Linked DNA regions of Homo sapiens. The protein of the gene in region 6 interacts with the protein of the main gene of each other region in a pairwise test. Each region holds a gene or a part of one and is shown on either strand. Other genes may lie near its edges.

Region 1 (3,500 bases), on a different chromosome or scaffold from region 6:
TCAACCTCCCGAGTAGCTGGGATTACAGGCACGCGCCACCACACCCGGCTAATTTTTTTGTATTGTTAGTAGAGATGGGGTTTCACCATGTTGTCCAGGCTGGTCTCGAACTCCTGACCTTAGGTGATCTGCCTGCCTCGGGCTCCCAAAGTGCTGGGATTATAGGCGTGAGCCACCACACCCGTCCAGAAAGGGCTTTTATACTGCAAGTCAGGGGGCCTTAGTGACTGACTTTCTCTGTGACCCCAGGCAAGTCCTGTCTTTTCTCTGGATCGAACATTGTTCCTTTCAACACCAGGTGGACGGTGCTTGCTGGACTCTTTCTAGCTATAAGAGTCTTTTTTTTTTTTTTTTTTTTTTTTGAGACGGAGTCTCGCTCTGTCGCCCAGGCTGGAGTGCAGTGGCCGGATCTCAGCTCACTGCAAGCTCCGCCTCCTGGGTTTAGGCCATTCTCCTGCCTCAGCCTCCCGAGTAGCTGGGACTAAAGGCGCCCACCACCACGCCCGGCTAATTTTTTGTATTTTTAGTAGAGACGGGGTTTCACCATGTTAGCCAGGATGGTCTCGATCGCCTGACCTCGTGATCCACCTGCCTCGGTCTCCCAAAGTGCTGGGATTACTGGCGTCAGCCACCGCACCCGGCCACTATAAGAGTCTTTTGTTCATAATCAAGGCTTGTGCTTTCCAAATACCCCTTGGGCAAACATTTACAGGAGATAATTAGAGGAATGACAAGAATGAAAAGCCAAGCTAGCCAGGCGGTGGCTCACTTCTGTAATCCCAGCAATTTGGGAGGCCGAGGCAGGCAGATCACCTGAGGTCAGGAGTTCAAGACCAGCCTGACCAACGTGGAGAAACCCCGTCTCTACTAAAAATACAAAATTAGCTGGGTGTCGTGGCGCATGCCTATCATCCCAGCTACTCGAGAGGTTGAGGCAGGAGAGTCACTTGAACCTGGGAGGCAGAGGTTGTAGTGAGCTGAGATCGTGCCATTTTACTCCAGCCTGGGCAACAAGAGTGAAACTCCATCTCAAAAAAAAAAAAAAAAAAAAAAGCCAGGCCAGGAGTGTGGCTCATGCCTGTAATCCCAGTGCTTTGGGAGGCCAAGGCAGGGGACTGCTTGAGGCCAGGAGTTCGAGACCAGCCTGGGCAACGCGGGGAGACCCAGTCTGTAAAAATTTTTTTCTTTTAAAAAAAGTCTTAGTGCAAGCTGGGCATGGTGGCTCATGCCTGTAATCCCAACATTTTGGGAGGCCAAGGCGGGTGTATCACTTGAGGCCAGGAGTTCAAAACCCACCTGGCCAACATGGTGAAACCACGTCTCTACTAAAAATACAAAAATTAGCCGGGCTTGGTGGCATGCACCTGTAATCCCAGCTATTCAGGAGGCTGAGGCAAGAGAATCGCTTCAACCCGGGAGGCAGATCATGCCACTGCATCCAGCCTGGGTGACAGAGCGAGACTCCGTCTCAAAAAAAAAAAAAAAAGAAGAAGACCTAGTGCAGTGGCTCATGCCTGTAATCCCAGCAGTTAGAGAGGCCAAGGCAGGAGGATCACTTGAGACCAGCCTGGGCAACATAGCAAGACCCTTTCTCTGCTAAAAAAATTTTTTTCTTTATTTTTTATTTTATTTTTATTTTTTTGAGATGGAGTCTCACTCTGTCCCCCATGCTGGAGTGTTATGGCACAGTCTCGGCTCACTGCAACCTCCGCCTCCCGGGTTCAAGCGATTCTCCTGCCTCAGCCTCCTGAGTAGCTGAGACTACAGGCTCCTGTCACCATGCCCAACTAAGTTTTGTATCTTTAGTCTCGGGGTATCGCCATGTTGGCCAGTCTGGTCTCGAACTCCTGACCTCAAGTGATCCACCTGCCTCAGCCTCCCAAAGTGCTGGGATTACAGGCATGAGCCACCACGCACTTTTGTTTTTTTAAGATGTACTCTGTCTTCCAGGCTGGAGTGCAGTGGCGCAATTTCAGCTCACTGCACCTCCGCCTCCCGGATTCAAGTGATTCTTCTGCCTCAGCCTCCCAAGTAGTTGGGACTACAGGCATGCGCCACCACACCTGGGTAATTTTTTGTGTTTTTAGTAGACATGGGGTTTCGCCATGTTGGCCAGCCTGGTCTTGAACTCCTGACCTCAGGCAAACTGCCCATCTTGGCCTCCCAAAGTGCTGGGATTATAGGCATGAGCCACTATGCCCAGCCAAAAAAAAATTTTTTTTTAATTGGCTGGGCAAGGTGGTACACACCTGTAGCCCCAGCTACTCAGGAGGCTCAGAGAGAAGGATCACCTGAGCCCAGGAGATAGAGGCTGCAGTGAGCTATGATTCTGCCACTATATTCCAGCCTGGGTGCAAGACCCTGTCTCAAAAAAAAAGGAAATACTTCTCTTTTATAAATAACTGTTGATCAGTGAAACAAAATTAAATAGCTTCTTAACTGGGACCCTTCTCTAGCCTTTCATATGGCTGTACGTGTGATGACTATTAGGAGGGGCCTTGGAGGTCATGCTTAGTATGCATCTTATTTGACCATAGAACATTTGGCTTTTGGAGTGCCTGTTAACATCTCCAGTGTTTATGGAAAGTAATGAGGAATATATGCTGATCTAGGCCTATCAGTTATCTTGAAAATCTAAAAAAGATATCCGCCTGCCATATTATTACACAGTTTTGTTTGTTTGTTTTTTTGTTTTTGTTTTTTGAGACAGAGTCTCGCTCTGTTGCCCAGGCTGGAGTGCAGTGGCGCGATCTCGCCTCACTGCAAGCTCCGCCTCCCGGATTCACGCCATTCTCCTGCCTCAGCCTCCTGAGTAGCTGGGACTACAGGGCGCCCACCACCACACCCAGCGAATTTTTTGTATTTTTAGTAGAGATGGGGTTTCGCCGTGTTAGCCAGGATGGTCTCGATCTTCTGACCTCGTGATCCGCCCGCCTCAGCCTCCTAAAGTGCTGGGATTACAGGCGTGAGCCACCGTACCCGGCCATTACACAGTTATTTAGGACTTGGGACCTAGGCTCCTGGGCCCCCATTTGCAGCTCATCTTCCCTGCCCTCCTGATTGACTCTGAGGATATTAGAGAAGACCTGCTGGTCTTAGAAACCCTTAATTCAAATAGGGCCCCCAAGATTGGTCCTGTGCCCACTTCACAAGGCCTGTCCCCTCCAGGTGCAGACGCCAGAAGTGAGATTTCAGCAGCAGCTGGAGCAGCTCAACTCCATGGGCTTCATCAATCGTGAGGCTAACCTGCAGGCCCTGATTGCCACAGGAGGGGACATCAACGCAGCTATCGAGAGACTGCTGGGCTCCCAGCTCTCCTAATCCCTCGGCCCATGCCTCCTGCCTCTCCCCTCCCTCGATGTCAGCATTCGGTTCTTCTGTCAATCCTTACCCTCTGCAGCTTGTCCTCCCTTCCGTCTTCTCCCTCATCCTTTCCAAACAGCAGGGTGACTTTAGAGGCATGGGCTCCAACCCCTTAGCTCTGTCTGAGAATTATGGTT
Region 2 (3,500 bases), on a different chromosome or scaffold from region 6:
GTAGAGACAGGGTTTCACTGTCTTAGCCAGGATGGTCTCAATCTGCTGACCTCGTGATCCGCCCTCCTCGGCCTCCCAAAGTGCTGGGATTATAGGCATGAGCCATTCTCGCCTGGCCTTGACCTGGTCTGTTTTTAATAAATGAGAAACATAAACCCACAAATTCTCTAAATTTATGATGCCATGGACTTACGTAAATGTTACTTCAACCTAAAACTTAACATTATTGTTAGTTTCTGGTCTTCAGCAGTCCCCTTTGAGAAAAAGCATTTATTCCCTAACAGATCACTTCTCCCGGATCACCTAAACTGGTAGCACACAATATCGCAACGCACTTTTATAGCGTTTACTGTGATGAATGGAGCATATTAATGTCTCTTCTGTGGATATGATTGATTCTCCCCCTTCCTTAGTGTTGTCTTCAAGCAAATATAGTTGGACCGACACTGAGTTTGATGTAGTTTACTTTAGGATTGTATTTATTATTGTATTTATTTCCAGGCTTAATCATAACATTGCTTATTGCTCGTAGCTTTGTAGCATTCTTACCCAGGAGTTTTGTGGTTGACCAACCACACAAAAAAAGTCACTTTTTAATTTTATTTATTATTTCTCCTCTTAGACCGCAGGATGGAAACAAGCCCACTGAGACTAGTCAACCTCAATCTAGCACAGGGGGTTACAACCAGCCCAGCCTAGGATATGGACAGAGTAACTACAGTTATCCCCAGGTACCTGGGAGCTACCCCATGCAGCCAGTCACTGCACCTCCATCCTACCCTCCTACCAGGTCAGTCTACTTTTTGTGGCAAAACAAAAACAGTGACAAAACAGTTTTTTTCAGGTTGTTGACCAGCTTGCTTTGACTTCTTCAGCTAAGGTATGTTATCTGACTGTCGCAGTGATAAGTCATCTGACCATACTTGGTTACATTAAAGCCTGAGATCTAGGGTCCCATAGTGTTGCCTGGCAGCTAATAACTATTCTTTTTTCTTTTTTTTTTTTTTTCCCCCGAGACGGAGTCTCTCTCTGTCGCCCAGGCTGGAGTGCAGTGGCGCGATCTCGGCTCACTGCAAGCTCCACCTCCTGGGTTCACGCCATTCTCCTGCCTCAACCTCCCGAGTAGCTGGGACTACGGGTGCCCGCCACCACGCCCAGCTAATTTTTTGTATTTTTAGTAGAGACAGGGTTTCACTGTGTTGGCCAGGATGGTCTCAATCTCCTGACCTCGTGATCCACCCATCTCGGCCTCCCACAGTGCTGGGATTACAGGCGTGAGCCACCGCACCCGGCCCAGCTAATAACTATTCTTTCTAAATACAAAAACATTTTTACCACTCTAAGTTCTTTCTTTAAGTTTCTTCCTTTTGCTGTTTTAGTTAACTCAGATGGGAAGCAGAAGTATATGAAAGCATGTAAATAGATGTAAGAGCCATCTTCCCCAATGCAGTTAGGATAAGTAAAGCGCAGGGCATTATAATTCACCTTAATCATTTTACATTTTACCTAACACATAAAGGTTTATTCATGCACTAACCTTTTAATGTATGGGCCAACTCTTTTTATTTTATTTTTATTATTATCGCCTGGCCAAGTTTTCTTTTTTGAGACAGAGTCTCACTCTGTTGCACAGGCTGGAGTGCAGTGGCACGATCTCCGCTCACTGCAACCTCTGCCTCCTAGGGATTCTCATGCCTCAGCCTCCCGAGTAGCTGGGACTGCAAGTGCATGCCACCACACCTGACTAACTTTTCTTTTTGTTTTATTGTTGTTTTGAGATGGAGTTTCGCTCTTGTTGCCCAGGCTGGAGTGCAATGGCACAATCTCGGCTTACTGCAGTTTCCACCTCCTGGGTTCAAGTGATTCTCCTGCTTCAGCCTCCTGAGTAGCTGGGATTACAAGTGCTCACTACCACACCTGGCAAAAATTTTTTTTTTTGTATTTTTAGTAGAGACAGGGTTTCACCATGTGGGCCAGGCTTGTCTGGAATTCCTGACCTCAGGTGATCCACCCGCCTCCACCTCCCAAAGTGCTGGGGTGACAGGCGCGAGCCCCTGCGCCCAGCCAGTTTGTTTGTTTGTTTTGAGATGGAGTTTTGCTCTTGTTGCCCAGGCTGGAGTGCAATGGCGTGATCTTGGCTCACCGCAACCTCTGCCTCCTGGGTTCAAGCGATTCTCCTGCCTCAGCCTCCCTAGTAGCTGGGATTAGATACAGACGCCACCACAACCGGCTAATTTTGTATTTTTAGTAGAGACGGGGTTTCTCCATGTTGGTCAGGCTGGTCTTGAACTCCCATCCTCAGGTGATCCGCCTGCCTCGGCCTCCCAAAGTGCTGGGAATACAGGCATGAGCCACTGCGCCTGGCCCAGTTTTTGTATTTTTAGTAGATACAGGGTTTCACAATGTTGGCCAGGCTGGTCTTGAACTCCTGGCCTCAAGTGATCCGCCCACCTTGGCCTCCCAAAGTGCTGGGATTATGGGATTACAGGTGTGAGCCACCATGCCCAGCCTGCAAGTTTTCTTAACCCATGTTTAATTAGATGTGGGTTTTCAAATTGTTTGAATTGTGCCCTGAAAGTTTTGCTAGAAGTAGCGGTTCCCTTTTTTGCACTCATTTCATTGTTTTGCAGCAGATGTGAACAGGTTTAGGAACAAGTAGAATTGATTGGGTGTCTCTCCATACAGCCAGCTTGGAGCAAAAGTGGGTAGGGCTTACAACCCTTCTTCCACAGAGCAGGTTCGTACCTATTGCATTGAGAGCAGTTAATAGCAGTTAATCTGGCAAGTTGGATAGGTACACAGTGAGAGATTATTGAATTCATACAGCAATGGTGAGGGATGTGGTGTGTTAGAAGCTTTGTTTGTTTGTTTATTTTTGGAGACCGGGTCTCACTCTGTTGTCCAGGCTGGGGTACAGTGACACAGTCGTAGCCCCCTGTAGCCTCGAACTTCCTGGCCTAGTTTAATCGGACTTTAAAATATGTGTCCTTACTGTTTCTCATCATGATTTGTAAAGCTTAATACCAGATGGGTTTTTTTGTTTTTGTGTGTGTTTTGTTTTGTTTTTTTGAGACGGAGTTTCACTCCTGTTACCTAGGCTGGAGTGCAATGGTGCGATCTTGGCTCACCGCAACCCTCGCCTCCCAGGTTAAAGTGATTCTCCTACGTCAGCCTCCCAAGTAGCTGGCATTATAGGCATGTGCCACCACACACAGCTAATTTTGTATTTTTAGTAGAGACGGTGTTTTTCCATGTTGGTCAGGCTAGTCTCGAACCCCTGACCTCAGGTGATCCACCCGTCTCTGCCTCCCAAAGTGCTGGGATTACAGGTGTGAGCCACTGCTTCTGGCCCTTGTTTTTTTTTTTTTTTTTTTGAGATGGAGTTTTGCTCTGTTGCCCAGGTTGGAGTGCAGTGGCGCTGTCTTGGCTCACTGCAGCCTCTGCCTTCCAGGTTTAAACAGTTCTCTTGCCGCAGCCTCTCGAGTAGCTGGGACTATAGG
Region 3 (3,500 bases), on a different chromosome or scaffold from region 6:
GACAGGGTCTCCCTCTGTTGCCTAGGCTAGAGTGCAGTGGTGCGATCATGGCTCACTGCAGCCTCAAACTCCCAGGCTCCAGAGATCCTCCCACCTCAGCCTCTCAAGTAGCTGGGACCACAGGTGCTCACCACCATGCCAGGCTAATTTTATTTTTTTGTAGAGACAGGGTTTTGCCATGTTGCCCAGGCTAGTATCAAACTCCTGGACACAAGCAGTTCTGCCTCAGCCTCCCAAAGTGCTGGGATTACAGGCATAGGCCACTGCACCTGGCCTACTATTCCTTTAACATCCAGTTCATGTGTCCCTCCCTTCCAACCGCTGCATCCTCACAAGACAGTTATGATTTGGCTCCTGCTTCTGTAGATCCTCACTTCCAAACTTTTGTCTCTTCATTTCTGATCCACTCCTGAGCAAAGGTTTATTCTTCTTTCTTCTATGTAATGTCCTTACTTTGTATAGGCTCACTATTCTCATGATCCTCTTTATAACATTTTTTTTGTCTATATCTCTGTCTCTACTAGCAGGTTGTGAATTTTCTGAAAGCAAGAACTATATTTACCCACTTGGGGATCTGTAGCACCTGGCATAGTTAAGTGCTACATAGTAGATATTCTCAATAAATGTTTGTGAAATGAGTGAACGGGTAATAGAGAAGTGGTCTACAGATACCTACTTTACTTCCAATTTCTGCTTATTCTATACTCTGTTGAATAGTGATTCTTACCCACTGGGATCATATATCTAATTGAAGAAAGTGGCAAACTCCCTCTCCATAAAAATGCAAATAAATTTGGTACAGGAGGGGTTAATGAAATCTTTGAGCCAAAATGCACACTTAATTATGAAGCCCTGATGGTAAGTAACTGCATCCTATTTGCAAGTTTTGTAATTGCCCAATCTTGAAGAAACCATAACATCAAGACAAATCCGTACCTGAATTTCGTCGCACTTGATTAGCTTTTCCACCTCTCCTTGACTCAGAAGAATGAACTCTTCATGCTGTACCACTTCAGGAAAATGCTTCTGGCTAAAAACCTCAGCTGCTTGCATCAGGTCAACACAATTGTGGGTTTCAGCAAAATCCCTAATACCCAGGCAATTAGAAGGGTCCAACTGACTTTCTAAGAACTCACAGCAGGCTTGTTTCACACCTAGGACAGACACAGGCAGCAAACACTTTAGAATAGTTGGACAGGTGTGATCTAGGATATATTCTTGTATCTCAGCATCTTCTCTACATGTTATCAGATGAACCCTTGTTTCAACACCTAAGAAACAGATTAGAAATTCTATGCTTAAGGAACTTAAACTCTATTTCTGGCTTATGTACTGTGCCACTTTCAGCAAGACCTTTACACCTGTCTCTGCTTAATCTTTAAAATGAGTATTGCAAGATGAATCACATCCAGAGACCTGGCACAATTCAACAAAAATGCCTATAAAACTCTTGGGAATCAAACTATAAAACCAATTGCGAATTCAGCATAATGTATCCATTTTCTACTCTACATGAAAACTTACTAAAAGACTAGAGTGAAAGAAAAGGAGAAGATAGTAATAACAAATCTCATATTTATCTAATTGAAAAGTTCAGAGTATTTTAATGTTATGGCTATGCACTAATGCAAAAGCTTCACACTGTTTAAATCATGTATTAAAAACTAAAAGTGTGTCAATTATGTATATATAAAAACTGAAAACATAACTGAATGTTAAAAAAGAAAAACTGGGGACCAGGAACGGTGGCTCGTGCCTATAATTCCAGCATTCTGGGAGGCAAGGTGGGAGGATCACTCGAGCCCACGAGCTTGAGACCAGCCTGAGCAACATAGAGAGAACTCATCTCCACACAAAAAAATTTTGTTTTAATTAGCTGGGTGTGGTGGCATGCACCTGTGGTCCCAGCTACTCAGGAGGCTGAGGTGTGAGAATTGCTTGAGCCCAAGAATTCAAGGATACAGTGAGCTGTGATTGCACCACTGTGCTCTAATCTGGGTGACAGAGTGAGACTCTGTCTCAAAAACAAAACAAAAAACCTGGGAATTGTAAGGGAAAACAAACCACCTGTAATCCTGTGAAAATATCATACTTTAATATTTTGTGCATCAATTTAAATTTCATGTATCTTAATGAAATACTACCACTTAATGGCCAGATAGATAAAGAGTATCCATGTAGGCTATGTATAGTATCACTTTTTTATTATATTTCCTTATAGGTGTGTTACATACATGTATGTAAGAAAACACATAATTTCTCCTTCCTCCATTTTTTTTTTAAAACAGAAAAGGTGCAAATGCTCTCTTTTATAGAGCCAAATACTCATATCTGGAGAAGTTCCTTTATAGTGCTATTGACATCTGATCTCTTATTGCTCAATGAGACAAAAGCCATGGCCAGCAAACATGAACATCCATAGTTTGTCTCCAAAATGTTCATGATTAAGTTTACACTATTAATTTTCAACCTTTCCAGGGCTATTTTGACATAAACAATAGCAAGTTTTAATGTCTGTACCTTTCAACTGAAGCAGACAGGCTGCAGGAAGCAGTTCTTGTACATTCTCCACTGTCACATGTACTGTTTCTGTGTACACAAAGTCCAATAAAATTTCCATGGTAGAGGCAGTCAAACCTTGGATGTCAACATAAGGTTTCCCCTTCTCTGAGAGCTGAAAATTCAAAAGGTATAAAAGAATGATGGTTATAATTCCACAAGATAAAGGCAGAATCTCATATCTAAGAGCTTAGAGATGTTAATAATATTAATTGAACATTTATCTTTAAAAATTACAGGCCAGGCGTGGTGGCTCATGCCTGTAATCCCAGCACTTTGAGAGGCTAAGGCAGGCAAATCACCTGAGGTCAGGAATTCAAGACCAGCCTGGCCAACACAGTGAAACCCCGTCTCCACTAGAAATACAAAAATTAGTTGGGCATGGTGGCACATGCCTGTAGTCCCAGCTACTCAGGAGGCTGAGGCAGGAGAATTGCTTCAACCCAGGAGGCGAAGGTTGCAGAGAGCCAAGATTGTGCCACTCCACTCCAGCCTGGGCACCAGAGTGAGACTCCATTTCAAAAAAATAAAAAAGAAAGAAAATAAAAAAATAAAATTATGCTCTATTTTGTTGGATTTTTTTTTTTTTTTTTTTTTTTTTGAGACGGAATCTTGCACTGTTTCCCAGGCTGGAGTGCAGTGGTGCCATCTCGGCTCACTGCAAGCTCCACCTCCTGGGTTCATGCCATTCTCCTGGCTCAGCCTCCCGAGTAGTTTGGACTACAGGCGCCCGCCACCACGCCCGGCTAATTTTTTGTACTTTTAGTAGAGACGGGGTTTCACCGTGTTAGCCAGGATGGTCTCGATCTCCTCACCTCGTGATCCGCCTGCCTCAGCCTCCCAAAGTGCTGGGATTACAGGCGTGAGCCACCGCGCCCGGCCAATTTTGTTGGATTTTAATAAAGCAAATATGGCACATTATCTGTAGCTTTCCAAATGAA
Region 4 (3,500 bases), on a different chromosome or scaffold from region 6:
CTCGGACACCCCATGGAGCCCACCCCTGGTGCCAGCAGGAGCCCCACGGAACCCCTCACCGTCCCACCAGCCCTGGAAGGGCACAATTAACCACAGCGGTGGGGAAGCCACAGTGCCGGAAGAGTGGAGAGCCAGAGCTGAAGGGCCGCAGTGCCAGCAGGGGGCTCCTGCGGGGTGCTCCCTCGGCGTTGGCGGGCAGCGTGGACCTCCAGGCCTGCCCCCGATCCTGAGACCCGGGGAGTGGGGTGGGACCCTGCCTCCTCCACATGTTCCCCAAGGAAGCCAGGGTGGGAAACCCCTGATTCCTTCAACACCTTCATTTTGCACACGGGTAAACTGAGGCCCAAGGAGGCCCAGCCCTTTGCCTGAGGCCTCTGGGTGGAGCTGCCTCACTCTCGGCCTATGCTCCTTCCCAACCCACCTCAGCAGGTAATGAGGGGGCCAGAGGGGGTGACAGCCCCAGTGGGAGGGGTGCTGGGATGAGCTGGAGGGGCCAGGCAGGGCAAAGGGGCCACACGCTCACTTGGCAATGGTGTCCACACCCAGCTTCACCCGGTCCTGGTCTTTGTTGAACGTGTAGATCTTCATGATGGAGGCGGCCACTGGGTCGGTGGAGAAGTGCTGGGAGGAGGGAAGCAGGGAAAGCCACTCACTGAGAGCCCGGGCCGCACGGCCCTCCGCTGCCCAGGTAACAGGGGCAGGAAAAGGAAGGCAGAACAGCGGCTTGGAGCGGCCCCAGCTGTGCGCTCATCACAGAAAGGAAAAGAGAGACCCTCCAAGACCGCAGCCCTGCCCACGCCCCAGGGCAGAGGCGACGCAGCCAAGACCCAGCAGAACTCAAGTCTCCCCTTCCGCCTTCTCAAGGCTAGATCCATGGGACTTGGAAGCCAGTGTGACGCGACAGAACTGTGCCTCACACTCTGGCTTTAGAACTCGACCTCAGTGCTGAGATCCATCAAGGCCACCGCCACTTACAGAACCTCCCGCCACCATGGACGCCCCATCCCTCCTGCTCTCGCAGCCCCATGATGGACGTTCTGGAACCACTCCCGGGCCTCATGTTTACAAAGAGACCGAGAGGCCCATCGTCCAGGGTCACAGGGATGGCAGGTGGCAGAGAGGACACAAATGAGTCTGCAACCCTCAATGTCTGAAACTCAATAGCTGGAAGACGGATACCCCCAGCCCCTGCCCCTCCCCGAGGTCCCACCTATCCACCTATGTTACCGGGGGAGGGGAGAAGTCATAGCTGGAACTCTGGGGGTTTCCCAGAACCAGCCCTGCTGACTGCGAACAGCGTCCCAGCATGGAGAGGCTGAGAACAGTACGTACCCTAAGACCTGGAAAAGATTGGGGCACAAATCCACGCTCGGCACAGCCATCACACACGGCCACACCCAGAGAGCCACCCATGGCCTGGGAAGCAGGGCTGCCACCCGCACCTCCCTGGGCTGCCCAGACGAGGGCGGGTGAACAGAAGGGCAGCCCAGGGCCATGTGTCAGGATTCGGGCCACCTGCCCAGGCAGCCCAGAGCTCCACCCACCACCCCCCACCCTCAACTGCACAGCAGGGTCCCTCAGCAGCCCCCTGCGTCACACGGACCAATGACCTACACACTGAGCCGGGGCTCATGCCAACTGAAAATTGGGACCCGGCCCAGTCTGCCGGTTTAGTTGCTGAGATGATGTGGGGAGCGGGACAGAGCACGTGGATGCAGAGAGGCAGAGCTGCCAGATGGGCATGTCCCCAAGACAACAGCTTCCTTGGGATCAGAGCGCCCGGGACAGCACACCAGCCAAGGGAAGCGTGTCAGCTCCAAAAGCGGGCCTCGGGCGTTTTGGGCGACTGGCTGCCAGGCTTAGGTCAGGAGCTGGGTACATGCACAGACAAGGGACGAAGGAACAGCAGCCAGGAAGGGGTCCAAATCCATACAGGAATGTACTTTGTGAGAAAGGTGGGATTTCACAGCTGTAAGCAAAAGACAGGTGCTCTCGACAGGTGGGGCTGAGAAGAAAGCTGAGCCAAGATCTAAAAAAAAAATTACATCAGCTCCATCCCACCATGTTACATAATAACATGCTCCAGCTGGATCAAAGCTTCAACCATGGAAACAAGCAAGCAGTCAAGGAGAAGCCAGAAGAAAAGCTCTGGAGGCCGGGCACGGTGGCTCATGCCTGGAATCCCAGCACTTTGGGAGGCCGAGGCGGTCGGATCACGAGATTAGGAGAGCGAGACCATCCCGGCCAACATGGTGAAACCTCATCTCTAAAATACAAAAGTTAGCCCGGGTGTGGTGGCGTGCACCTGTAGTCCCAGCTACTTGGGAGGCTGAGGCAGGTGAATTGCTTGAACCCGGGAAGCAGAGGTTGCAGTGAGCTGAGATTGCACCACTGCACTCCAGCCTGGTGACAGCAAGACTCTGTCTCAAAAAAAAAAAAAAAAAAAGCACTGGAGAGGCCACAAAAGAATTCTCTCAGCATGGAAATGGGGAAGGCATTTCTAAGAATGACCCCAAACCCAAAAGCCATGAACTAAAACTGACACATTTAATTATACAGAGATCAAAAAATCCTACACAGCAAAGTGACCATAAGCAGAGCCAACATAGAAGCAACTAGAGGGAAACATGTGCAACTCATATCATAGGCAAAAGCCTAAATTGCCTAATATGTAAAGAGTGCTGCCGGGCACGGTGGCTCCCGCCTGTAATCCCAGCACTTTGGGAGGCCGAGGCGGGCGGATCACGAGGTCAGGAGATCGAGACCATCCTGGCTAACATGGTGAAACCCCGTCTCTACTAAAAATACAAAGAATCAGCTGGGCGTGGTGGCGGTTCGCCTGTGGTCCCAGCTACTCGGGAGGCTGAGGCAGGAGAATGGTGTGAACCTCGTAGGCGGAGCTTGCAGTGAGCAGAGATGGCGCCACTGCACTCCAGCCTGGGCGACAGAGCGAGACTCTGTCTCAAAAAAAAAAAAAAAAAAAAAAAAAAAAGAGTGCCTACAAATCACTAATAAAAAGACAAACTATCTACTAAATAATGTAGAAAGGACGCATTCTCATATGAAACATGGCCAATCCAAAATAAGGAAAGTGCAAATTAACTCTATCCTGAGATGTTATTTTCACCTACCAACAGGCGTAAAGATCAAAGTTTGGTGATTTACAGTATGGTGAGAGGATGGGGACACGGGTGCTTTTGCACACACTGCTGGAGTGGGTGTGAGTCTGGAGAGTCTATGGAACTATTACTATTTTGTTTTGTTTTGTTTTTAAGATGAAGTTTCGCTCTTGTCACCCAGTGTCCACGCTGGAGCTCAATGGCGTGATCTGGGCTCACTGCAACCTCCACCTCCCAGGTTCAAGCGATTCTCCTGCCTCAGTCTCCTGAGTAGCTGGGATTACAGGCGCCTGTCACCACGCCTGGCTAATTTTTGTATATTTAGTAGATAGGGGGTTTCACTATGTTGACCAGGCTGGTCTTGGAACTTCTGACCTCAGG
Region 5 (3,500 bases), on a different chromosome or scaffold from region 6:
TTAACAATACTGAATCTTCCCATTGAGAGATATTTTATGTCTGTATTCATTCTTTTTAGTAATGTTTTTTAAAGTGTTTTCTTCACGCTGGTTGTGCAGTGGCTTACGCCTGTAATCCCAGCATTTTGGGAGGCCCAGGCTGGGGAATCACTTGAGGTCAGGAGTTCGAGTCCAGCCTGGGCAACATAATGAAATCCTAAAAATGCAAAAAAATTTAGCCGGGTGTGGTGACGCATGCCTATAATCCCTGCTACTTGGGAGGCTGGGGCAGGAGAATTGCTTGAACCTGGGGTGCTGAGGTTTCAGTGAGCTGAGATCGCGCTACTGCACTCCAACCTGGGTGACAGAGCAAGACTCTGTCTCAAAAAAAAAAAAATTTTTTTTCTTCGGATAGGTCTTGAAGTAATCTTGTTGTTGATCTTGTGTCTGTTCATTTTGCTGAAATGTTTTAGCTCCAATTAATTGGTTCTAATGGGGTTTTTAAAAAAATTTTCTTGTGTATTCTAAATAAATAATCTATTTGTCATTTTCACTACAAATGAGTTTTACCATATTCTTTCCAATGTTGTTATGACTTTTCTTAATGGATTGTCAAATATAATCAATACTGAATTGGCTTGGTAATTGTGATCTTCCTTGTTTTGTTGCTGATTTTAATTTATTCTTTTTCTTTTTCTTTCTTTTTTTTTTTTTTTTTTTTTTCTTCAGACGGAGTCTTGCTCTTTTGCCCAGGTTGGAGTACAGTGGCGTGATCCTGGCTCACTGCAACCTCTACCTCCCGGATTCAAGCAATACTTCTGCCTCAGCCTCCTGAGTAGCTGGGATTACAGGCACACAACCACCACACCCAGCTAATTTTCCTATTTTTTGGTAGAGACAGGGTTTCACCGTGTTGGTCAGGGTGGTCTCAAACTCCTGACCTCGTGATCCACCCGCCTCGGCCTCCCAAAGTGCTGGGATTACAGGCGTGAGCCACTGTGCCCAGCCCTGATTTTACTTTATTCTTGATCTTAATAGAAGTTCTTACAATAGGCTGGGCACAGTGGCTCATGCCTGTAATCCCAGAACTTTGGGAGGCCAAGTTGGGTGGATCATTTGAGGTCAGGAGTTCAAGACTGGCCTGGCCAACAAGGTGAAAGCCCATCTCTACCAAAAAATAGGAAAACTAACCAGGCGTGGTGGCGGGTGCCTGTAATCCCGGCTACTGGGGGGCTGAGGAAGGAGAACCGTTTGAACCCGGGAGGTGGAGGTTGCAGTGAGCTGTGATTGTGCCACTGCACTCCAGTCTGGGCCACAGAGCGAGACACCTTCTCAAAAAAAAAAGTTCTTAAAATGTTTTACAATTATTGTATATTAATGACTGTAGGTTTGTGATAGATAATCTAGATTACTTCTTAATTTTTCATGATTCTTCTTATCAGGCATTTTACCAAGATTTTCTTGAATGCTTTTGGTTTGTTTTGAAAATAATCATATGACGTTTATCCTTTAATCTGCTAACAGTAGATTTTCTAATGTAGTTTCCTAATATCAAATCATCCTTGAATTTATACATGATGTTAGTCTATAGTCTTCTTGTTCTGTTGTTGTTCAGTTTCAGCTTTGAAAGTTTACATTACCTTCCCAGAATAAGTTAGGACACTCCTTTTCACTTTTTCTCCCCTAATGTGTTATAACACCTTAAATAACATAAGAATGATCTATCCAATAAAGGCTTCATAGAATTTTCTCAAAAACCTTTCTGAGCCTGGAGCCTTTAGGAGGGATGATATTAGAACTTTCATCACCTTTTCCATTGCTGCTCTGATTTGTCTTTTTTTCTTTCCCTTGAGTTAGTTTAGCTAATTTCAAACTCATTGATATGAAATTGTACGTGGTATTTCTAATGTTATTTATATTAAACATGTTTTCTTTATAACACTTGGAAAGGTATATTTCATGGTTTCTCCAGCTTTCCTGAGTAAAAAAATCATATGCATTTGTTAAAAATGCAGATCCCCAGGTTCTTCCCTAGAGATTTCCCCTAGAGATTCAGTAAGTCTAGGATGAGGACTTAGATACTATATTTTCAGTAAGTTCTGGAGTCTTATCAGGTGCATTAGGAAATTCTGATCTTTTTTTTGGGTCTTTTGACCAAAATTCATTTTCTTCTACTTACTTTTTTTTTTTTTTTCTGTATCTGGAATGAATTCTAAGCTCTTTTGTTACCATTCTTTCTTACATCTTTAGGTACTTCTTTGGCCATGTCCAGTAGCATTTAATCTGAGTGTTTTCTTTTTGTCATTAATTCTCCTAAAATTTGTGATTATGTCTCCCTCTGCCATTTCCATTAGAACTTTGATATATGGTCTTCCAGTAGGTTTTGTTCTGTAATCTATTCACCCTTACAGTTTTAATTTGACTCATTTTTATAGTGACACGTAGTCGAACTAGATCAATCACACTTAAAATGAAAATTAGGAAAACTGTGTCACTGGATTGCAGTACTGGGTTATTTCTTGAAAAAGTGTAGAATGGGTTCTTGCAACCCCTATAGTACTATCTTAAGAACTGATGCCATCATACAGTTCCTACTATTGGCAAAACAGTTCGTTTGATGTTAGCTACCACTTACACAAGGGAAGGGCGATTGAAAGGGATCATTTTTCAGAGTTTAGATGGCCCATACAGACTTCCTCTCAGAATTGATGATTTGGAGGGAAAACACTGGTTATCTTAATGCTGGTTCCTCTCTCCTTAAGGTTGTTATTATTATACATACTTAAATTTTTATCATTTACATATTCATCCCTGAAATTTTGAGCAACAAAAATAAAATCTCCATTTTATTTTATGTTACATATTTTGAAAATATTACTTTGTCTGCTGTTTGGAGAATGGATTGTAGTTGCTTAGTCTGGATTAGGCTCTGAATAAGTGTAGTCAATTGATTAGGTAATTGATTGCTTTATCATTACTTGATAGATGATTTTATTAATTTTCCCTTCTCAGTTAATGGAGAATCATCCTCATTTGCACCAACTGATAATGCGTCTGTCACGGGTACTCCAGTAGTGTCTGAAGAAAATGCCTTGTCTCCAAATTGCACTAGTACTACTGTTGAAGATCCTCCAGTTCAAGAAATACTGACTTCCTCAGAAAACAATGAATGTATTCCTTCTACCAGTGCAGAATTGGAATCTGAAGCTAGAAGTATATTAGAGCCTGACACCTCTAATTCTAGAAGTAGTTCTGCTTTTGAAGCAGCCAAATCAAGACAGCCAGATGGGTGTATGGATCCTGTACGGCAGCAGTCTGGGAATGCCAACACAGAAACCTTGCCATCAGGGTATGTTAAGCTTTTTAATGTCTGACTTGCATTTAAGTAGCAACTCTGTTAACATACGATTATTGAATGTGTGCATAAAATGTTTTCATTGTTCAGAACTTTGAAATCTAAGTTGGGATCTGAATCATACTATTTATTTACTTGCTACAAAACAAGTACTTTTTGAAACTAA
Region 6 (3,500 bases):
ATTATAAGACAACCTGAAAGTTCAGACGTAACTTACAGATTCTCCCATTAATACAATTTACTAAAGAATTATACAAATGGCACATATGGAGGAGCTAATGGTTTTAGGGACTATTAGCCAAAATAGTCCCTAAATGGATAGAATGACCCAGAGAAAAGCATTTGTTATATGATGGTAAACAGAGCAACAAGATATTATGGGCCCAGGCTACTGTTTTGCTATTTAAAGGAGAGCCAGAATAAGATCTTTTATTTATTTTGTATTTTTTTAATTTTAATTTTTATTTATTTATTTTTTTGAGACGGAGTCTTGCTCTGTCGCCCAGGCTGGAGTGCAGTGGCGCAATCTCGGCTCACTGCAAGCTCCGCCTCCTGGGTTCACGCCATTCTCCTGCCTCAGCCCCCCCCCCCCCCCCCGAGTAGCTGGGACTACAGGCGCCCGCTACCTTGCCCAGCTAATTTCTTGTATTTTTTGTAGAGATGGGGTTTCACCGTGTTAGGCAGGATGGGTTAGCCAGGATGGTCTTGATCTCCTGACCTCGTGATCCGCCCGCCTCGGCCTCCCAAAGTGCTGGGATTACAGGTGTGAGCCACCACACCCGGCCGAGAATAAGATCTTTTTAAAAGAAAAAGAAAAAAGCCTAGTAGGGGAAATATCATTTATATTCCTAAATAAAGGGACCTCAAGTAATCATCAGGTAATCGTTTATGTAATTAATGACTTATCCAATTTACTAGTTACAGAATCTTTACATACCAATTTTACTTGTTACGAGGTAGAATGTCTATAAGACTTATTTAATAAGGGGTCTGGGATCTCAAGGTTAAATCAGAGAACAAAGCTAAATTTAACAAAGGGCAGAAACTAAGACCACAAGTCACTGAATAATGCCATAATTTTATTCTGTTTGTACAGCAATACTAAAATAATCTTTAAGAAATGAGTTTTTGTTAAACAAAGTAACATGCTCAAATTGCAATGACCACAGAAATTAGGAAAAAAGAGGGTAAGTTTTGTTATGAAGTTTCAGTGTGGCTGAAGCTTCAGGCGGTGTGGCTGCAGCAGTAGTTCCATGCACTTAAGATACTAAAAAGTTTCCCACAAGGGGTGTTGGGCACTTTAAACTCTCTTGCAATCCGGTTCTGAACATCAAGTAGAATTACTAATATTATTCAAAGGGAGTTGAGTTTCCATCCTCCTCAGCAGAAACTATAATCACAATATATGGTCTGAGGGAAAGTAAAAAAGAATGGAAGGGTTATTAACAGCAGGACTAAATGTATTTTTAAATTTACACTTTCACTTACATAAATAGGTGAACAGATTCTTTGTTTTCTTCTATTAGCTACAAACCTGTGAAAATGTTTACATAAGTAGACAAAAAATTTACAAGCATAATTGCAGCTACACTAACCTGGTATATCACAATCACTTACTATTTTTGTCCATCCATGAATTCCTATGTTGACACAAACCAATTTTCCACATTGATATGATTCTACCAATATTTAGGATCAGCCATTTTGTCTGGTAGTTGTACTGCTTCCAAGTGGTTGTAGTACGATCCTAATTAAGACCATGGTCCTGGGGTTTGATCTCCATGTGGACTAGTTAGCTTCTCTCTGTTCCAAGGCCACAGCCTGTACACTTAGCCCCAATGGTATACATTTAAACTTTGTGAAAAAACATAATGAATCTGAATACATTTGCTGCCATTACTAAAAATGAAACTCAAAGCACACTCTTTTGTAGTTATCAGTAACCTTCCTTTTAATCAGCTTCATATCACATCAATCCTCCAGCGTAAAAAAAAATACAGAACATACTGAACTTTGTTCTTACTTCATAAAGTGAGAAAATATGCATGATGTTTGCATGAGAAATTATGCAAAATGTATATCACAGGTCATATATAAATAAAGCTCTGTGAGCCTACTGAACAGACTAAAAAAAAGGTTTCCAGTTTGTCAAAGAAATATTTCACGGTATCATTTTTTATTACATGAAGGGTCTTTTCAATTATTACTTTTAATTTTAATGGCATTCAAAAAACAAGAAAATATCAACATCATTCCTCTAATTATCTTTGATACCAAATGTTGCCCAATCTTATCTGCTGTTCATAGTAGCTAGCCAGCTATGTTACATAAAGCTTGGAATAAACAACAGCTCTTAGGGTTTGTTTAAAAAAAAAAAAAACTCACTAATTTTTTTCATTCCCTACCATTCTAAATCACTACAATCATTCTTTAGACAAGGTATTCTCTCAACATTTTACACAACAAGATTATGCTCCACATGATATACAAATATCTGTTGCCAAGCCAGAGAAAATGGATGGCAAAATGACCAAAATCCTATTAGTTCCCTTAAAGTATGGCTTCTCAACCTTTTCATTATCCCTGTCTCCTCCCTCCCTTCAAGAAGTTACTTTTAGACATTTTTTCCCTAATTACCCCTCTTACAATTTTAATATCACAGATATACGATACATACTGTATACCACTATTGGGATGAACTTGTTGGCTGTCAAAATATTCATCATTCTCCCTGACAGGCCTGATATTTTTTTGATGGTTCTAAAATTACAGTAATATCATTCGAGGCTAGGCATGGTGGTTCATGCCTGTTAATCCCACCACTTTGGGAGGCCAAGGCAAGAGGATCCCTTGAGCCCAGGAGTCTAAGACCAGCCTGGGCAACTTAGGAAGATCCCATCTCTACCATAAAAATACATAAATACATACAAAATTCGTGCATTATATGATACTATCAGTAAATGCACAGCAAAGGCCACTTGTTTCAAAGCCTATTTTAAATTATTTCCATTTAGAGAAATATATGAAGGGGGGAAGTTACATTTTGCATTTACAAAATATATCCTATACCTCGGAAAAGAAATACTAGTATGCAAAATCCAATAGCAGATAACCTAATGCATACATTTTTAAAGAAAATATATCATTTTCTGGTTTTATCTAATTATGTTCTCAGTAGTTATTAAAACTGGCTAGTAATCCCTGTAAAAATCCCTTCCTTATATAATGGTAAGGAATTTGGTACTAAAAATATGCCACATAAACCATAGTGGACAATTCACAGGCAACTAAATTAACTGCACCCATAAATAACAAAATAGAGAAGAGTTCTAGCTTCCCTGAACATTTCTATCCATTTTTCTGAATCAATTCTACCTAGCTCATTCTCAACCTGACAGCTTTATTTCAGATGGTTTTCTAGTAAACATAAATAAATCATAAACAATGTTTCTCTGATATTTGTCCAAGAAATTTATTTTCATTAATTGGCTCAACAATTGGCTAGAATACATACATAATGACTGAACGTAAAGCAAAATGATTCATGACATAAAAACTGACTTATCGGATGTCCAGGTCCGTAACTCCTAAGTGAATTCTTTGTTCCAACTACTGCCTCTATACACCTCCATTCTTTTAAAAGTAATTAATCTATTTTTGTGTGTGACAAAGTCTCGTTCT
Region 7 (3,500 bases), on a different chromosome or scaffold from region 6:
GTCATCATGAAGCTATTTATGAAGGAGAAAGGCCGGGGCAGGGGGTGGGGGAAACAATCCAATCTTCCTGATAAAACCACACGATTCACAAGTTGAGTGGTCTTTGAAAGTTCATAATAGAGACACATACAGAAAAATGTGTTACAGTGAAAGTTTGACCTATATGTTCTTCTATATTGATGCCATGTCTCCATGATTCTAAAACAAAAGACTTTGAATTTACAGTTAGTAATTCATAAGGAAACAGATAAGGAGATAAGTGTAGTGTCTACTGCACCTTAAGCTGTATGAAAGCAGAGCCATTGTAGCCACAGAGCCTAATTCAAGGGTGACACAGGACATGCTCAGTAAATATTTAGAGACTGGCTGCGGTAGGTAACCGAATGACTAGATAGACATGAATATTAATATTTAGGAGGTTGAACCATTTGTGCATATATTAAGTTTACTCAAGCCTTATTAGCAAATAACAAAGTTTAATATGCTAGTGTATTGTAATTAAACATGGCTTTTGTGGGTCAAAAACAGTCATATTTGGGGAATTTCATATGGTTCAACTTCATTGGTGTAGTTCCAGAGTAAGCATAACATATATAAATACTGAAGTATATTCATTATTTTAAATATTTAAAATAATACTTACAGCAATGATGATAGATATCTTTAAAATCATCCATAATTCTACCATCTTCACATCCCATTAATTTCATTTATCTCTTTCTTCGTAGTCTGTATGTAATTTTAAAGCTATCTTTGTTTTATTATCAACAAAACATGGAACTGAACATTCATCAGGGATGTTTCAAAAACTGGTAATTCAGCCCCAGTAACTTAACTGTCTCATTTTATCTAAAGGAGAATTTGTTTGAAACAAATTTGCTAGTTGCAAATTAGCTCTGAGAACAGGCACAGCTTACGTTAAGTGAAAATTTTACTTTCCCTATTTCAATACAGCATAAGAACATACAAGTTACAATTATCTAAGTACAATACATTGTTTCTTTCTAATATATATTTTATTTAATCAGACATCTATTTACCTCTCCTTGAATTGCAGACTCACAGATGAATGCTTCTCACCCGGAAACAAACTTGCCAGTTGGGTATCCTCCTCAGTATCCACCGACAGCATTCCAAGGTAAAGCAGTTGCTGAAAGAAGAAAAAGTAAAATTAATTGAGAGACAGAGAGAGAGAGTGAGAGTGGGAGAGAGAGAGTAAGAGAGAGAGAGAATTGTGCATTTGTTTTTATTTTAGTAGTTCTTTTTTTAAAATTATATTAATGAAATTTTGGCAGCCTAGTTGTTCTTGATTATTTTTATTTGGCTATCATTTTGCACAGAAGTAATTTTTATTTATAGAGGACAGTAAAGGTATAAAGAAAGCTAGTAAAAACAACATTAGGTTTACATTTAGCAAATGAAATACAAGACTGTACATCCTAAAATACAAATGTTAAGTAAAATATTTTATTGATCCTCCATCTGTTCTGAAAATTATGATCATTTAATCACATTTAGGAAATTTATTTCTGATAAACTGAGTCATGTAGTAGCTTGGCATGTGTTCAGTGAGAGTCACATCAAAATAGTAAGACTGCTTAAAACTGAAAGTAATAGAAATTCAGTTACCTGGGAATAATTCTCATTTTAATTTTATAATGTATATGAAAGCTTTATTTTTATATATATGCTGATTCCACCCTGTATTTCTAAGAAAAGTAATTGAGTCATTTGACTACATACATAATTGAGTACATTTTTTCTTTTCAACCAATGCCTGAAAGAATTCAGAGATTTTCATTTAGGCAAATGCAGTTATCAAAACTACTAGAACTTTAAAAATAGCAAAGTCCATGGCATGTCCAGATTTACAAGCAGACAGGCTACCCACATCTTGAAAGAGCATCCTGAGGATTTAGGACCAAAGGGAATGTGGTTTGGATAGAAGGATGTACCCACTGTGTTTTCTTCTCTGAGTAAACAAATGTGCTTAGGAGCTGAATGTCATGTTTAATTGCCTAGCAAGAAACCTCCCTGCGGGTCCCGGATCTCATCCAGATGTTTGCAACTGAAAGAATATGAGCTAGATAAGCTCAGACTCTCAAGTGGTGGCTCATGGCAACCTTGTCTGCACTGAAGTATCATCACCCAGAAGCACTTAAAAATAGTAGTGCAAAGGCACTATTCCAGAAAAATTAAATCATAGCTTCCAGTGGTGGGACTCAAGGAATAGTAATCTTTTAACACCCCAAGTGATTCTAAGGTGAAGCCAGGGTTGAGAACATCTGCTCTAAATTCTTATAGGGTTGGTGTTTGAAAAATCATTAGTAAGTCTATAATATTCATCCAAGGCACTTAAGAGAATGATTTAATCCACCCTATCACTAATTAAAAGTAGATATACATAAATAATACAGTTCAGATATAATCAGACTTGAGAGTTTGTTTATATATATAGATATATATGGCTCTACAGCTTGATTTTGTTTCTCAAGTCCAAGATTACATATAGCACAAGTCTTAAGATAACGATGCTAAGAGTAAGGATAATTTAAAATTGAGATCTTACCATGCTTTAGTCATTGTTTTAAATGTGGAGTTAATGTGGACTAACACTTTTAATTCTTAGAATACTCTTATGAGGTAAATACTGTCAGTTATCCCCATTATGTATGTGGGAAAGCTGAGGCATAGGAAGTTTGTATCAGGCTTCAAGTTCTGCCTACTTTAAAAAAAAAATTCGTATAGGTAAATGTGCTGGTAAACCAGGTTCTGCCTTCTGTACTAATAGTTATGTGGTAGTTTAAACAAGTTGCAGTACCTCAAAGCCTCAGAGTTCCTATCTATAAATAAGGGTGATATTTTCAATGTAGGTTGCTTTGTAGAGTAAATGAGAGTATATGTAAAACACTGAGCACAATGCTTGCAAATTATAAATGACAAGTATTTGCTAACATATTTAAAATATTTTAAATCAATTAGTCTTTACATAAATGATACTAGTATTCAAATTTCAGGTAATTCTTTATGCTTAATTCATTGATTTGAGGAGTAATCCATCATACTTTCAGAGTCTGGGGAAAATTATGATGATGTTAAAAATGTAAGAAATTAACTCACATCTCCATATCCCCACTGGTCTGCCTATGGTCTGGTTTCTGTGCTGACCCCAGTGATCTTTAAAAATGTAAATCTGCTCATATTACAGAGAGTGTAGAGCCCCTATTTTATTAGTGGCCTATTACTTTTAGGATAAAGGCTAACACTAAACTCAGGATGGCCTTTTCCATGCTCTCTCTTTAACTTCCTCTTGAGCCTGGCTTGCTGTTATTCAGCTAGACTGGCTATTTTTCAGATTTTTAAAGGCCTATGTTAGTTACTGTCCCAGGACGTTGCTCTGAAATGTTCTTTCTGTGACTCTGGCCTCCTGAACTCCTGTGCATCCTTCAGATCTCAGCATAAAGGTGACCCCTCAAGGCAGCTGTTCCTGCTCCTTCCCT

Evidence for each region.
Region 1: the proteins of CPSF6 (region 6) and UBQLN4 interact in a two-hybrid assay, tested with the Homo sapiens proteins (one large-scale study listed by BioGRID and IntAct).
Region 2: the proteins of CPSF6 (region 6) and EWSR1 interact in a two-hybrid assay, tested with the Homo sapiens proteins (one large-scale study listed by BioGRID and IntAct).
Region 3: the proteins of CPSF6 (region 6) and KLHL12 interact in a two-hybrid assay, tested with the Homo sapiens proteins (one large-scale study listed by BioGRID and IntAct).
Region 4: the proteins of CPSF6 (region 6) and UBXN6 interact in a two-hybrid assay, tested with the Homo sapiens proteins (one large-scale study listed by IntAct).
Region 5: the proteins of CPSF6 (region 6) and WWP1 interact in binary tests that used the Homo sapiens proteins (3 or more experiments, as listed by UniProt).
Region 7: the proteins of CPSF6 (region 6) and PLSCR1 interact in a two-hybrid assay, tested with the Homo sapiens proteins (one large-scale study listed by BioGRID and IntAct).

The regions. Positions count from the first base shown.
Region 1 is NC_000001.11:156,036,799-156,040,298, reverse strand, and holds part of UBQLN4 (ubiquilin-4), read left to right. Parts: intron 1-3,168; coding exon 3,169-3,321; 3' UTR 3,322-3,500. UniProt on the Homo sapiens protein: Regulator of protein degradation that mediates the proteasomal targeting of misfolded, mislocalized or accumulated proteins.
Region 2 is NC_000022.11:29,281,768-29,285,267, forward strand, and holds part of EWSR1 (RNA-binding protein EWS), read left to right. Parts: intron 1-622; coding exon 623-790; intron 791-3,500. UniProt on the Homo sapiens protein: Binds to ssRNA containing the consensus sequence 5'-AGGUAA-3'. Might normally function as a transcriptional repressor. EWS-fusion-proteins (EFPS) may play a role in the tumorigenic process.
Region 3 is NC_000001.11:202,917,235-202,920,734, forward strand, and holds part of KLHL12 (kelch-like protein 12), read right to left. Parts: intron 2,675-3,500; coding exon 2,521-2,674; intron 1,155-2,520; coding exon 937-1,154; intron 1-936. UniProt on the Homo sapiens protein: Substrate-specific adapter of a BCR (BTB-CUL3-RBX1) E3 ubiquitin ligase complex that acts as a negative regulator of Wnt signaling pathway and ER-Golgi transport.
Region 4 is NC_000019.10:4,447,795-4,451,294, forward strand, and holds part of UBXN6 (UBX domain-containing protein 6), read right to left. Parts: intron 3,037-3,500; exon of another isoform or gene 622-3,036; coding exon 524-621; exon of another isoform or gene 1-523. UniProt on the Homo sapiens protein: May negatively regulate the ATPase activity of VCP, an ATP-driven segregase that associates with different cofactors to control a wide variety of cellular processes.
Region 5 is NC_000008.11:86,408,547-86,412,046, forward strand, and holds part of WWP1 (NEDD4-like E3 ubiquitin-protein ligase WWP1), read left to right. Parts: intron 1-2,991; coding exon 2,992-3,328; intron 3,329-3,500. UniProt on the Homo sapiens protein: E3 ubiquitin-protein ligase which accepts ubiquitin from an E2 ubiquitin-conjugating enzyme in the form of a thioester and then directly transfers the ubiquitin to targeted substrates.
Region 6 is NC_000012.12:69,246,069-69,249,568, reverse strand, and holds part of CPSF6 (cleavage and polyadenylation specificity factor subunit 6), read right to left. Parts: intron 1-3,500. UniProt on the Homo sapiens protein: Component of the cleavage factor Im (CFIm) complex that functions as an activator of the pre-mRNA 3'-end cleavage and polyadenylation processing required for the maturation of pre-mRNA into functional mRNAs.
Region 7 is NC_000003.12:146,531,108-146,534,607, reverse strand, and holds part of PLSCR1 (phospholipid scramblase 1), read left to right. Parts: intron 1-1,057; coding exon 1,058-1,138; intron 1,139-3,500. UniProt on the Homo sapiens protein: Catalyzes calcium-induced ATP-independent rapid bidirectional and non-specific movement of phospholipids (lipid scrambling or lipid flip-flop) between the inner and outer leaflet of the plasma membrane resulting in collapse of the phospholipid asymmetry which leads to phosphatidylserine externalization on the cell surface.